2 linked regions of the Homo sapiens genome follow. The protein of the gene in region 1 interacts with the protein of each later gene in a pairwise test. Each region holds a gene or a part of one and is shown in the gene's direction. Other genes may lie near its edges.

Region 1 (7,182 bases):
ATACTGACAAATGTCTTTTTTTTTTTTTTTTTGAGATGGAGTCTAGCTCTGTCGTCCAGGCTGGAGTGCAGTGGCATGATCTCAGCTCACTGCAACCTCTGCCTCCCAGGTTCAAGTGATTCTCCTGTCTCAGCCTCCCGAGTAGCTGGGATTATAGGCACCTACCACCATGCGCAGCTGATTTTTGTATTTTTCGTAGAGACGGGGTTTCACTGTGTTGGCCAGGCTGGTCTTGAACTCCTGATCTCCTGATCCGCCCGCCTCAGTCTCCCAAAGTTTGGGATTACAAGCGTGAGCCACAGCGCCCGACTCTGATAAATGTCTTAATTCTGTTTCTTGTTTAATAGATTTTTGTATTTTGTAGTCAAATCAATTCATTTTCCCTTTGTGATTCTGTCATTGTTTTTAAACACAGACCATGCCCTTCCAGAGATGTGGTGTCACTTTTACTTTCTTTTAGCATTTTTTATGATTTACTTTCTTTTTCTAAAAACATATTTTAAATCTCTATAGGGCAAACAATGTTCAAATTAAATATAATGCAAGTCATAAATGTGATCCATAAATGTAATTTTATTTTATTTATTATTATTATTATTTTTTGAGACCGAATCTCACTCTGTCACCCAGGCTGGAGTGCAGTGGCATGATCTCAGCTCACTGCAACCCCCGTCTCTGCCTCCTGGGTTCAAGTGATTCTCCTGTCTCAGCCTCCTGAGTAGCTGGGATTACATGCGCACAGCATCATGCCTGGCAAATTTTTGTGTTTTTAGTAGAGACGGGGTTTTACTATGTTACCCAGGCTGGTCTCAAACTGCTGGGCTCAAGCGATCCGCCCACCTCAGCCTCTCAAAGTGCTGGGATTACAGGTGTGAGCCACCATGCCCAGCCCATACGTGTAATTTTAAATCTTTCCAGTGGCTACTTTTTTTTTTTTGAGATGGAGTCTTGCTCTGTCTCCCAGGCTAGAATGTGATGGCGCAATCTCAGATCACCGGAACCTCCGCCTCCCGGGTTCAGTGATTCTCCTACCTCAGCCTCCCGAGTAGCTGGGATTACAGACGTGCACCACCATGCCCAGGTAATCTTTGTAGTTTTAGTAGAGACAGGGTTTCGCCGTGTTGGCCAGGCTGGTCTCAAACTCCTGACCTCAGGTGATCCACCCGCCTTAGCCTCCCAAAGTGCTGGGATTACAGACGTGAGCCACCACGCCCAGCCCCAGTGGCTACATTTTTTTTTTTTTTAAGTAAAAAGGATAGGTAGGAGCACAGAGGATTTTTAGGGCAGTGAAACTATTCTGCGTGATACCACAATGGTGGACACATGTCATTATACATTTGTCAAAACCCATAGAATATCCAACACCAAGAATGAGCCCTAATGTAAACTAGGAACTTTGGGTGATATTAGCGTGTCAGTGTAGGCTCATCAATTTCAGCAAATGGATATCTCTGGAACCAGAGGTTGTGTGTGTATGGGGACAGCAGATATGTGGGAACTCTGTACTTTCTGCCCAGTTTTGATGTGAACTTAAAACTGTCCTAAAAAATAACAATTTAGCTGGGCACTGTGGCTCATGCCTATAATCCCAGGACTTTGGGAGGCTGAGGCGGGAGGATCGCTTGAGCTCGGGAGTTTGAGACCAGCCTAGGCAGCATGGCAAAACCATGTTTTGTATTTTTCTTCAAAAAAATACAAAAATTAGCCGGATGTGGAGATGCACATCTGCAGTCCCTGCTACTGGGGAGGCTGAGGTGGGAGCACTGCTTGAGCTTCAGGGGTGGGGGGCGGTGGAGCTTGCAGTGAGCGGAGATTTTGCCACTGCACTCCAGCCTGGGTGACACATTGAGACCCTGTCTTAAAAAAAGAAAAAAAATTATCATTATAAATAATTCAAAATTATTAAAACATCAAAAGAAACAGGTGAAAGTAATATTAATAACATATTTTATTGTCCTATTATATTCAAAAATATCACTTAATATATAATCATTTATATAAAATTAATTAATGAGGCTAGGAGCAGTGGCACACGCTTGTAATACCAGCAATTTGGGAGGCTGAAGCAGATGGATGGCTTGAGCTCAGGAGTTTGAGACCAGCCTGGCTAACATAGCAAAACCCTGTGTCTATAAAAAAATAAAAATAAAAATAAAAATAAATTAGCCGGGTGTGGTGGGGTGAGAATGTAGTCCCAGCTACTCAGGAGGCTGAGGTGGGAGGATCACTTGAGCCCGTGAGGTCAAGGCTGCAGTGAGCCATGATTGCACCACTGCACTCCAACCTGGGTGACAGAGTGAGATGCTGTCTCAGTACATAAATAAATAAAATTAGTTAATGAAACATTTTACTTTTTCTGGTACTAAGCCATCAAAACTTGGTTTGTATTTTACAATTACAGCATGTCTCTATGCTTGTTATGACAAGCCACGTTGTCTGGGCTCAAAAGCCTCTGTGGCTCACGGCCACTGGGTTAGTCCTTTCGGGACTAGAGCTTGGTTTGATTCCATGGGAGGACAGAGGGAACAGGGTCTTGTGGCCTGTTTTACTCTCTCCTTCATCTTCACGTCCCCTCTACTCCTCTCTTGAAAATTCACACCCAGCCAACTTCTGTTTTCTTTTTTTGAGACAGAATCTGGCTCTGTCGCCCAGGCTGGAATGCAGTGGTGCCATCTTGGCTCATTGCACCCTCAACCTCCCAGGTTCAAGCAATTCTTGTGCCTCAGCCTCCTGAGTAGCTGGAACTACAGGCGTGGACGACCACACCCAGCTAATTTTTGTATTTTTAGTAGAGACAGGGTTTCACCATGTTGGCCAGGATGGTCTCAAACTCCTGACCTCAAGTGATCCGCCTGCCTTGGCCTCCCAAAGTGCCAGGTGCCAGGATTGCAAGCATGAGCCACCGCGCCTGGCTGAACTTTTTTCTTGCTTTTCCTAGTGATCTCCGCCTGGCTCTCTTGTGTCAGCCAGAGTGGCCTTTTGGCTCTCCGCCCACTCTGTCACTCTGCCCAGGGCTTCCATTGGTCCACGGCTGGCACCTTGCATGCCTCCACCTTCAGACTGTGGCTCTCACCCAGGAGCTCCGCACTTGGGACACCCTAGGATCTCCACCCCTGCAGCTCCCAGCTCTGGTGACAGCCTCAGTAATAACACAATTCTGAAATATATTCCTACCAGCCAGCACTTACTGAGCAGGCAACGCCAGACATTCTGCTGACCCAGGGTGCGTCCTCTTATCCTTCCAACCATCTTGAGGGCAGGAACCATTTTGCACATGAGGCTGTCCTATCAGTCAGTGAGCACTGACAGGTCCCAGGCTGTGTTCAAGGTCAGGGGAAGGAGCTTGGGGGTCATTAGACAAAAGCCCTGGGGGTCCTAGAGGGTTGAGCCAGGTTTATTAAAAATTCCTCCATGTTGGCCAGGTATGGTGGTTCACATCCCTAATCCCAGCACTTTGGGTGGCGGAGGTTGGAGGATTGCTTGAGGCCAGGAGGTCCAGACCAGCCTGGTCAGCATAGCAAAACCCGGTCTCTATTTTATTCAAAATAAGAAAAAGAAAAAAAAAATTTTTTTTTTTTTTGAGACGGAGTCTCACTCTGTCACCCAGGCTGGAGTGCAGTGGCGCGATCTCGGCTCACTGCAAGCTCCGCTTCCCGGGTTCACGCCATTCTCCTGCCTCAGCCTCCCGAGTAGCTGGGACTACAGGCGCCCGCCACCACGCCCAGCTAATTTTTTGTATTTTCAGTAGAGACGGGTTTTCACCATGTTAGCCAGGATGGTCTCGATCTCCTCCTGACCTCGTGATCCGCCCGCCTCGGCCTCCCAAAGTGCTGGGATTACAGGCGTGAGCCACCGCGCCTGGCCCAAAAAAAAAAAAACATTTAAAAAAAAATTTCCTCCATTTTGCTGGAAAGAGGATCTCAGTGTATTCCCTTTCCTGCCACCTGCGAACAGGCGGGAGCCCCCGCAGTAAGGAGGCCTGGAGGTGGCTGCCTCCAGCTGCCCCAGGCCACTCTCCCGGCAGGTCACCTCCCTGTCCCAAGTAGGGTGCGCTTGGTGACCGCAGCAAAAAATCCTGGAGAGGAGGAGAGAACTGGGCGGGGCGGGGCAGGCCCAGTGCCTCTCCCGTCGGGGCGGGACCAACATCTGGCCCAGGAGGCACAACCAGGCGGCAGCGGATACAAGGCCAGGCGGCGGCGGGCGGGCGGACCTGCGCCCTGAGCCTTTCTGCGCCCGCGGGCACCATGAGCAGCCGAGTCGGGGACCTGAGCCCCCAGCAGCAGGAAGCGCTGGCCAGGGTGAGGAGCATCGCGGGCTGGGAGGCTTGAGGAGGGGCCCTGAGCAGCCTGGCACTGCCCAACCCGGCTGGAGCCCCCATGGTACAGACTGGAACACCGAGCCTGGAGAGAGCGCCTCTGTTCTGCCCTCTGGTCCAGCGTGCGGTTGTTGAGGCGGCTACGTGCAGCACGCGGGACAGGGGCCCATCTCTGCGTGACCAGGAGCCGAATCCAGTCTTCTGACCTTGCGTGCTCTCCACCACCCGGCCCTGGTCCTTGTTCCCCGGTTGTGGGGGAGGGAGTGGCGCTGCCATCCGGCTGCGGGGGCAGCCTTGGGTAGACAGACTGCTTTTCATGTCCAGGTTGCAACATTTGTTTGTTTGGCTTCTCTTTGTGATTTGTTCTTAGGGCCCAAGCTTCTCTGTAATCTTTTTTTTTTTTTTTTTTGAGATGGAGTCTTGCTCTGTCGTCCAGGCTGGAGTGTAATGGCGCAATCTCGGTTCACTGCAACCTCCACCTCCTGAGTTCAAGCGATTCTCCTGCCTCAGCCTCCCAAGTAGCTGGGGCTACAGGTGCCCGCCACCACACCCGACTAATTTTTGTATTTTTAGTAGAGACGGGGTTTCACCATATTGGCCAGGCAGGTCTCTTGGACAGGCTGGTCTCGAACTCCTGACCTTGTGATCCATCCGCCTTGGCCTCCCAAAGTGCTGGGATTACAGGTGTGAGCCACTGCGCCCGGCCTCATATTTCTAATCCCAAATTTGGATTCACAGATTCACCTTCAAACCCAGCCTTTGCCTTCAGCTCTGTTGGTCCCCAGGGAAGTGAGATCTCCTCTCTCTCAGACGCAACAGATGCCCTGATAAGGCATTCCTGGCTTCTCTTTCAGCCCCTGTCTGTTGACCTCTGCCTCTGTTTTTTTTCCACAAAGCCTCCATTGTCCGGGGCATCAGGCAGTCCACGCTGGCTGAGTGCTCACATATATCTGACACCTGCTCGGAGCCAAGCCTGCTAAGTGTTTTACGTGCACAGACTCCTTTGATTGGTACAAGTTTATTTTTATCCCCATTTCAGAGATAAGGAAACTGAGGCTTAGAGAGGTTTGGTAACTTGCCTCTAAATCTAAACCCTCAAGATGCAGTATCAGGGACAACATTCCTAAAACCGCCTAGCTGGCCTGCATCAGACTCTCCCAGGGATCCTTGTAGAAATAAGGCTGTCAGTCGGGCATGGTGGCTCACGCCTGTGATCCCAGCACTTTGGGATACTAAGGCGGGTGGATTGTTTGAGCCAAGGAGTTTGAGACCAGCCTGGGCAACATAGCAAGATCCCATCTCTACAAAAAGTACAAAAATTAGCTGGGCATCTTGTGTGCCTGTGGTCCCAGCTACTTGGGAGTCTGAGCTGGGAGGATCTATTGAACCCGGGAGGCACGGGTTGCAGTGAGCCAAGATCACGCAACTACGCTCCAGCTTGGGCGATAGAGTGAGATCCTGTTTCAATAATAATAATAATAATAATAATAATATAAAAATAATAATAAAATAAAAATTAAAAATAAGGATGCCAGGGCCCCACCTTAGACATGTAGAATGGGAGTCCAGTGTGTAGGGCACTCCCAAATTTTGGGAAGGACCCAACTCTTTTTCCTATGTTGGGCTGGAGGGTGCCCTATTTTCAGATGGCAAAGTCGTTCAGGGCAGCACCCTGCATGGTCTTCTGGTGGAGTTGACTGGTGGATGATGTGGGAAGGGTTAGGGGCGGGGTTGGTGGCCCCCGAGGTCATGAGAGCTCCGCCGACCATCAGATCCTCCTCCGCTCAGTTCCGGGAGAACCTCCAGGACCTGCTGCCCATACTGCCCAATGCTGATGACTACTTCCTCCTGCGCTGGCTGCGAGGTGAGGCTTGCAGGGGTCAGGGGACGCAGAAAGGGAGGGAAGGAAGGAGGGTCTCAGGAGAGGAGTGGGAGACTTTGAGGGAATGGAGCTGTAGGGTAGTAAAGAACACAGGCTTGCCGGGCCCGGTGGCTCACACCTGTAATCCCAGCACTTTGGGAGGCCGAGGCAGGCAGATCACCTGAGGTCGGGAGTTCGAGACCAGCCTGACCAACATGGGGAAACCCTGTCTCTACTAAAAATACAAAATTAGCTGGCTTGGTGGCACATGCCTGTAATCTCAGCTACTCAGGAGGCTGAGGCAGGAGAATCGCTTGAACCCGGGAGGCAGAGGTTGCGGTAAGCCGAGATCCCGCCATTGCACTCCAGCCTGGGCATCAAGAGTGAAGCTCCGTCTCAAAAAAAAAAAAACAAAAAAACAAAAAACACAGGGTCTGGAATCAGCCTGCTCTGACTAGAATCTGAGCTCCCCTGTGTATGAGCACAGCACAAAACCCCACTGAGCCTCAGTTTCTTCATCTGTCAAGCAAGGATGAGGCAACAGGTGGGCACAGAGTCCAGGTGAGGTTACAGTTAACAGCCAGGACATCCTCAGGCCTCTGGCCTGGCCAGCCCTTGGGGCAGATGTTGCAGAGCACTGTTTTCAGTACTTGCCTTTGGGTGTACCTCCAGTTCCCCGAGGACAGGGCTCTGTTGTCCCCTAAAGGAACCGAGGTGCCCTAGTGCACTGAGCAGGTGCCCAGCAAACACTTAAGGAAGTGGATTTAGCGAATGCTAGAGAAGCAGTTTCTTCTAGGAATTACAGCAGCAGTCTAAAAAAATAATAACAAGCCAGATGCGATGGCTCACACTTATAGTCCCAGTGCTTTGGGAGGCTGAGGCAGGCAGATTTCTTGAGCTCAGGAGTTCAAGACCAGCCTGGGCAACATGGCGAAACCTCATCTCTACAAAAAATACAAAAATTAGCCGGGTGAGCTGCCGAGCACCTGTAATCCCAGCTACTCAG
Region 2 (7,208 bases), on another chromosome or scaffold:
ACCCCCAGTGAAGCTGATTGTACCAACATAAGCTGGTGTGCTCACTTGGAGTTCAGCTGCTGGATATGTCAACGTCCTTGAGAGTTCAAAAATGTAAACATCAGTCCAAGAACCAAAGATGCCCTGACCTTTGCATTAAGTTGGCCATACCCTTCCAGAGGAGACCATGGTAGAAAGCAGAGAGAGCAGGGTGAGACTGGGCAGAGATGGGAATGAGTAATGCTGACTGCATCCTGCCCCTCCTTCTTTGAGAATTCAAGTTTTAAAATCTGTTCTCTAATTCCACAATAAACAATCATCATGCACCTACTATGTACCAGGCTCTGGGCCGGGCAGTGGGATTCAAGAATGAATACAACATGGCTCCTGGCCTCAAGGAACTCAAAGTCCTGAAAAAGCCACACTGTAATGACAAGCCGCAATACCGTGTGACAAGTTTCTCCCTCTCTCTCTCTCTCTCTCTCTCTCTCTCTCACACACACACACACACACACACACACACACACAGCCAGCTCTGCCCAGTGGCACTGAGGAAGGTTTCATGGATGGAGAAACACATCAACTGAGTCCTAAGGATGAGGAATGATTAGTATGTTCCAGAATGAAGGAACAGCAAGTACAAAGCAGAAGCTTTTTAAAAAATGTGTTTTGATGTAGGCAGAGGCAAAAGTCCCCCAGTGGGCTGTTAGAACTTTCTTGAAGACTCAGAGAGTCTTGAAGAGTTCCTTACCAGCTTAACTACTGGCTTCCCACTCCCTGCTGAATAAACTCTTGGTTCAGCAGGCCTGAGGCCTTGGCTATATACCCATACCCCAGTTCATGTAACAGCAGGACCTGTGGGCTCAGTTTCAGACCCAAGGACTAGGGCTAGTAGAAGAAAATATAGTTCAATTTATGTGAAAGGGCCAGCTGAAATATCTGTCATTCTGGCAGTGTTCCCTGGTCACCCTAGCCAGAAGCCATCTTGCCCTCCTCTGGTCTCCTATTGGCAACTCTTTGCAGTATTAATTAAAAGCACAATAGTTAAATGTGGACTCTGGGGCCAGAATGCCTGGCTTTGAATTCCGGAATGCCTGGCCTCCACCTCCATATCTGTAAAACAGAGATAAAAATGATCCCCACCTAATGAGTGAAGAACTGCTAAACCCTTAATACACTGCTTGGCACATAGTAAATGCTCTGTAAGTGTTATTAATTACTATTATTGAAAATAATGCAACCATTTCTTGAGCATTTATTGGTACTAAGGGCAATGCTAGGCCGTTTACATGCCTTATCATTGCTCGGCACAGGGTGCTGAGTGTCTGAGCACAGAGGATGTTACAATATTAGGTGACTTTAGGGAGCACATTGTTGCTTTCTGAGTAGAAGAAACTTTCTCTCCTGCTGAAGCCACCTAACTCACAGTAAGTTGTGTTTGATCCTGGATCAACATAAATGCCTTGAAGAATACACACTGTCTCCAAGATGCCAGGGACTCTCACATCAACAGGCTGTTGACAGTGGATCCCACAGCATTTCACACATAGGCACCCATGTCCTCAACCCCGGATACCCAGCAGATTCTGAAATCCTGATTGTTTTTCCTGTGCCCAGCAACTGACTTTCTCCATGATCTTGGGAAGGTGTACAATCCCAGCTCTAGCTACCTAACTCATCTTCACATCCAGAAACCCCGCTTCCTCCAGTCAGATCTGATCTATGTAGCAAGCTCAGCAGCTAGAGGGACACACTTCCTTCCTACTTTAGACCCTATAAAGCGAACACAAACAATGCAGCCCTATGACAGAAGTCATTGGCCTTGGACTAAGGTCTTCAGCAGGCTCTCTTTCAGGTTTTCTTCCCATCTCTTCCAGTAACTGACTCTGCAGAGCTGCCCCCATCCACCGGGTAGCCATTACAAAGAGGTTCACAGCCTATAAGGGGCTTGGTGGCTGCAGAAATACGCAAACTGTCTTTAGTTTGACTTAGCCATCTATGACTGGTTTGGCTTCAGTTTGCAATGACCCAAGTTTGCATTAATTACTTTCAATAGCAAAACCACGGTTACTTTTGCACCAACCTAATATTAACCTGACCACAGCACCAAAGTGTTCATCTTTAACCCTGATGGGCTTGAGCACAGACTGCAAAGTCCTGGGCTCATCCTGACTTCCAGAATTACCTCAGGAAAAATAGATGGCTGGATTAGGACAGGACCACAGTGATCAGGAGGACTTAGCATGTTTTTAATCCCCTCCATTAAGAAGAATTTTGGCATTCTATTCTACTGTGAAACTACATTTGCTTTCTAAGAGACTAGGTCATGACAGCTCAAGAATGACCCGACATTTCTCTTCATCCAAAATAAGCAGGCATATTGCTCAATGGGTACCCTATGACCACCTGAATAAAACCAATATCTTTTCATAACCTCATCCTGAAACATTCTCCAAGCCTGCTGGTGGGTCCAAAGCTGGTCTGTCTTATCCATGGACCCATTCTCTGGAATTCAAGAGGTGCTGCAAAAATGCTGCCTCAAATAGCTCTGCCTGTGGCCCTATATCCCCTATTTGAGATTAGTTCACTTAGGTGCAAACATTAGAGGCTGATATTAGAGTGTGTTACCTTGTAGAGATGATGTTCTTTAACTCAGTGCAATCATCAGATTTAAAAGGTCTCCAAGAAGGTCATTATTTCAAACTTGAGAATCTCTCATGAGAAGCTCTACTGTTCTTTCTATCTACTGCCAGCATCTTTTAAGTATTAACTCACTTACTTCTCATTACAGTGTGGGAGGTATTATGAGGAAACTGAGGCACAGAGAATTTAAGTAACATGTGGATGTTAGTGAGTGAGTGGCTGCAGTTTGGAGCTTGAGCACCATGTTCCAGTGTGTGCTCATCACCAGGCTTCCTTCTGGAAGGGAGAGACAGAGTCGGAGTCTGGAAAACAGCAAGGGAGGGTCTGGATCAGGGGACTGTGAGCAGGCCAGGTGTTGTGAGAGCTGACCGAGGACATGGCCTAGAGGCTGATTATGGAGATTGTGAAAATTGCTATGGAAAAGAAATTTCCAGAACCCAGATTTTGGCTACTTTTGAAAGCATTTTTGAGGTAATACTGTCCTCTAGTGGCTAGATAGCAGGTAGGGATTACCCTCCAAATAAATAGCCAATGAGCCTTGAGTGGAGATGGTATGACAAGTCAGTGGTAAATTCATCATTTTGCTCTCTAACTACAGGTTCTAAAGGAAAGGCAAACCCCACTGCTATGGTCATCGGTACAGCTCAGGATTTCGGCCTCCTCTGCTCCGTGTGTTGGCTACAGGCTAGGTTCAAATCCCAATTCTGCTCTTTACTGCTGAAAGGCTTTGGGCATGTTCGTTAATCTCATTTTCTCTTCTGAAAAAGAGACAATCTTGAAAAGATTGACCTTCCGTGAAGATCAAATGAAGTAATGCGTGTAGTGTGTCTGGCACGTCGTAAGCGCATCACACACGTGAGCTGTGGCAATACTAAGGAGCAGTGGCAAGAGCTGGGGGAGGAGTGGAGACGAACAGACCTGGACAAATTAGTGACCTTTCTGGGACCCCTACAGAACTCTTCTGGAGAAATTAATTCTATTTTTCCATGTACTTTTAAGTTTGCTTTTCCTAGCATTTCTTCTACATTCCTGAATAATTTTCCACTCAAAAATTTCACTGGTTCTCCCTGACTCCCATATTAATCTAGACATAATTACTTCCCCAGAACAGTTCTGTGGGCAGGGAGGGCTCTACACTATGCACCCTCCAAAATCCCCAAAGCTCGGACCGTCCTGGCCTGGGTCCCCACTGCTGTCCTGCCCATGGGCTCCCAGGCTGTGCTTGCTCTTCTCCCACCCCAACCCCATCACCACAAAAAGCCCCTCCTCCAACCCGGGGACTTTTGTAATTTCCTACCTGAAATCATCCACTCCCTACCTCTAACAATCTGTGATGAGCAGAGGACAACATCAAGTTTGAATTTAGAGGTAGGGAATGGGTGATTTCAGGTAGGAAATTACAACTTCACTTTGAAGTTTAATTTTGTAATAAACTTCACTTAATTTTGAAGTAAATTTGCAAAGTCAGCAAAATTCTTTCAAAGTCAACCTTGCTCTGGCCTAGTTGCTTATTTACTGCTAAGCTGGATGTTTTCATTAAAAGATTAACTTTGAGACTTCAGCCTCTTCTTTAGCCTGAACTGTGGGTAGTGATGTGGTGTGTTTCCTAACACCTCCGGCAGTGAGCCAGGCTTTGAGTGGCTGCGTCTAAACACTTCTTTCCCTGAGGACTGGAAGACATTAGAATAAGGTTTGTCATTGAGTGTGTTCTGTGTGCTTGGAACTGAGAAGGGTGATGAAGTGCCAGATAGGATGGGAATGGAAGATATCGTGGAAGCCAACTATGAGTTTGCAAGGCAAGGACCTTGGCAAAGATGGTCCTAGGGAGACAGGTGTTAGGGAACTCAGAGGGCATGGGCAAAGGAAGATTTGGTTTCAAAAAGGATACAGACAGAGAAGGTTAAGTCTAGGAAGTTGAGTCTTAGAATTGTATGGTGGAATATTCGTGGGTGTCCATAGGAGGAAAAATGGGTTAAAATGTTTTCACTTGACAGCGTTCTGAAAACCTAAAAGGTATTGCTATTGCCTTCAGGGATATATTTAGTATTCTGACCACTGCTTCCCGGCCACAAGCAAAAGAAAACAGTGACATGGCTATGCTCCTAAAAAAGTAAAGAAGTTAATGTGTCTCAAACAATGTAGTTCCTTTGAGCAATAAGCTTATTTGGAACAAATGGGTTACAAAGTCCCACTAATGAAGAGCCTCTGATTGTGTTAAGTTGAATCTACAGATCAACCTGCGGAGAACTGCCAAGAACGCTAATGAAGACAGGGAGGTACTGGTATAAAGATAGATAACAGATCAATGGAACAGAATAAAGCGTCCATTAGCAGGAAGCAAAATCCGCAAACTTTTATTCTTAACTACTACTATATTCTGCATTTTACAAGATCCTTCAATTCTCACAAGATCCCTATGAGATAGACAGTAATAACCTAATTTAAAGATAGATGAGAATTGGAGCTTGTCTAGAATAGATTGAGTGGAACATCACTTGTGGTATATCATTTGAGAGGTAATGGGAATATTGCCAAATTCCCAGGTAACTCTCCCCTCAAAGGGACTCCTGTTGTACTCTAAATCGTATCAGCTATCAAATGATGAGCTATGAAAGTCTGTCTTCTTCGACTGTAAGCTTCTTGAGAGCAGAAACTGATGTGATAAAGGTCCCCCCCCATATCTCTAGTGTTTAGCATAATACTTTGATATATTATGTTAAATCAGGCTATGTTATAGTAAAGAATAAACCTTAACAACTTAGTGAGATAACACATAAATATTTATTTCTTCCTTACACAATATCAGCTGATCTCCAGGGCTACCCTTTTCCAAATGGCGTTTTGGGAATCCAAGTGGCCTTTCTCTTACAGCTTTGCCTTCTTGAGGATGGAGGATCGCTGTAGAGGAGGAAACAAAGCTGGAGGGTCACATACCAGCTCTTCAATCCTTGGCCTAGAATTCACACCTGCTATTCCCACTCCCAGGCCATTGGCCAGAAGAACTAGTCACAGAGCCATGCCTGTATTTAAGCAACAGCGAAATGTTAAGCATGTGGGGAGCAGTATATGCCTCCGCCACCCTGGCTGAGAGTGTGTGTCAATAAACCTTCTTGGATAAACTAATGAGTAAATCTGACAGAGGGTTTAAATTATACTATGACAGAAATACTCAAATCCTGAAGCAGCTTTCCACTTCCAGAGCCTCAGATGAAATCACACATGTCATCAACAGGAGGAATAATGAACATGGAGCTGCCTTTATTAACAATCTAGTCTATACAAGGCACTGTTCTAGAAATTTCAAAGGGGCCATACTGCTTAGTCCTCATGGCAGCCCTATGGGATGGATGTTAATATTCTCCTTTAACAAATAAATTTTGCACAGAACCGTGGTGAGCCAGTAGTAGAGCTGAGATTTCAGCCTATGTTTGCCAAGTGCCAAAGCTTATAATATAGTCTGTCTTCTCTACTCCACTGACTCCCTCAGTCATTAGTTCCTTGGGCACAGTTGATCGGTGGAAAGCAATGGCCTTCAGAAACACAGTCTGGGTAGTTGCCGTAGACAGAGAAGCCAGGAGGAAGGCAAAGAGAGAAAAAACTGCACTCCATAGCTGGGCTCTTCCATCCCCAACTGCTCTGCCTTTTCTCCTCTCTCTCCTGCTACAACCCAGTGATTGCCACTGTGAGATATAGGTACACCTGCAAGACCTGAAGTCACTAGTGGACAGAGTAGACGTCAGAGCCTGTTTTGGAGCTTTGTGTGAATTCTGATGTCTGTTTTGCACATTCTATCCTTGTTGAGCAGATGAAGAGGCAGGTGCAGTGATCTCACAGTGTCACATAGAACTCCTTTCCCAATGGCCTGGATTTTGTGGGAATTGACCAAGCTCATTTTATGCAACTCTCTGACCATTCAGAACAGAGACTTAAATGTCTCCCCCATACCAGTAACACTCCATACTGGCTCAAAGACATTGGAAACAAGTCAGAAGGATTCCAGGTCAGGCTTTGCCATTTCTGTTGCATTAGCTTGGATACTCACGTGAATTATCCGAGCTTTAATGTTTTTATCTATAACATGGGGCTCATACATACACTCTCTGATTGCCCACTGGATTGTTGTAAGCACCAAATGGAATAACGTATAGAAGAGTGCTCTGTAGACTGTTAAGACAGATTTAAACATAAGAAGTTATTTTTTAGTGATTGGCTGAATAATTAAGATTTTTTTTAACTTTCTGATTGAGTTATGATTTTTTGAGGGAAGAAAGCAAAGTTGCATATGTCCATGACATTTTAATCCTCTAAGGTCCGTGCCAACTCTGTCATTCCATAAACCACACTTGGCTGTGCCCATTTTCTTCTTTCTATAGTGCTTAAGAGCCAGGCCACTGGAATCGTGACACATTACTAGATATGTAATATTGAACAAAGTATTTTAACCTCTTGAACTTCAGGTTTCTCACCCGTGAAATGGGGATGATAATATTTGTGTTGAACATTTCCACAAGGATTAAAACAGTCATGCATGTAAAGCAATTTACACAGTGCATGGTACATCATGGAGTACTTGAAAAATGGTTGCA

Evidence for each region. Proteins that work in one complex are often made in the same cells at the same time.
Region 2: the proteins of SEC14L4 (region 1) and HAO2 interact in binary tests that used the Homo sapiens proteins (3 or more experiments, as listed by UniProt).

Annotation. Positions count from the first base shown.
Region 1 is NC_000022.11:30,502,674-30,509,855, reverse strand, and holds the start of SEC14L4 (SEC14-like protein 4), read left to right. Parts: upstream 1-4,160; 5' UTR 4,161-4,244; coding exon 4,245-4,298; intron 4,299-6,103; coding exon 6,104-6,179; intron 6,180-7,182. UniProt on the Homo sapiens protein: Probable hydrophobic ligand-binding protein; may play a role in the transport of hydrophobic ligands like tocopherol, squalene and phospholipids.
Region 2 is NC_000001.11:119,364,591-119,371,798, forward strand, and holds the start of HAO2 (2-Hydroxyacid oxidase 2), read left to right. Parts: upstream 1-4,194; 5' UTR 4,195-4,312; intron 4,313-4,355; exon of another isoform or gene 4,356-4,418; intron 4,419-5,493; exon of another isoform or gene 5,494-5,741; intron 5,742-7,208. UniProt on the Homo sapiens protein: Oxidase that catalyzes the oxidation of medium and long chain hydroxyacids such as 2-hydroxyhexadecanoate and 2-hydroxyoctanoate, to the correspondong 2-oxoacids.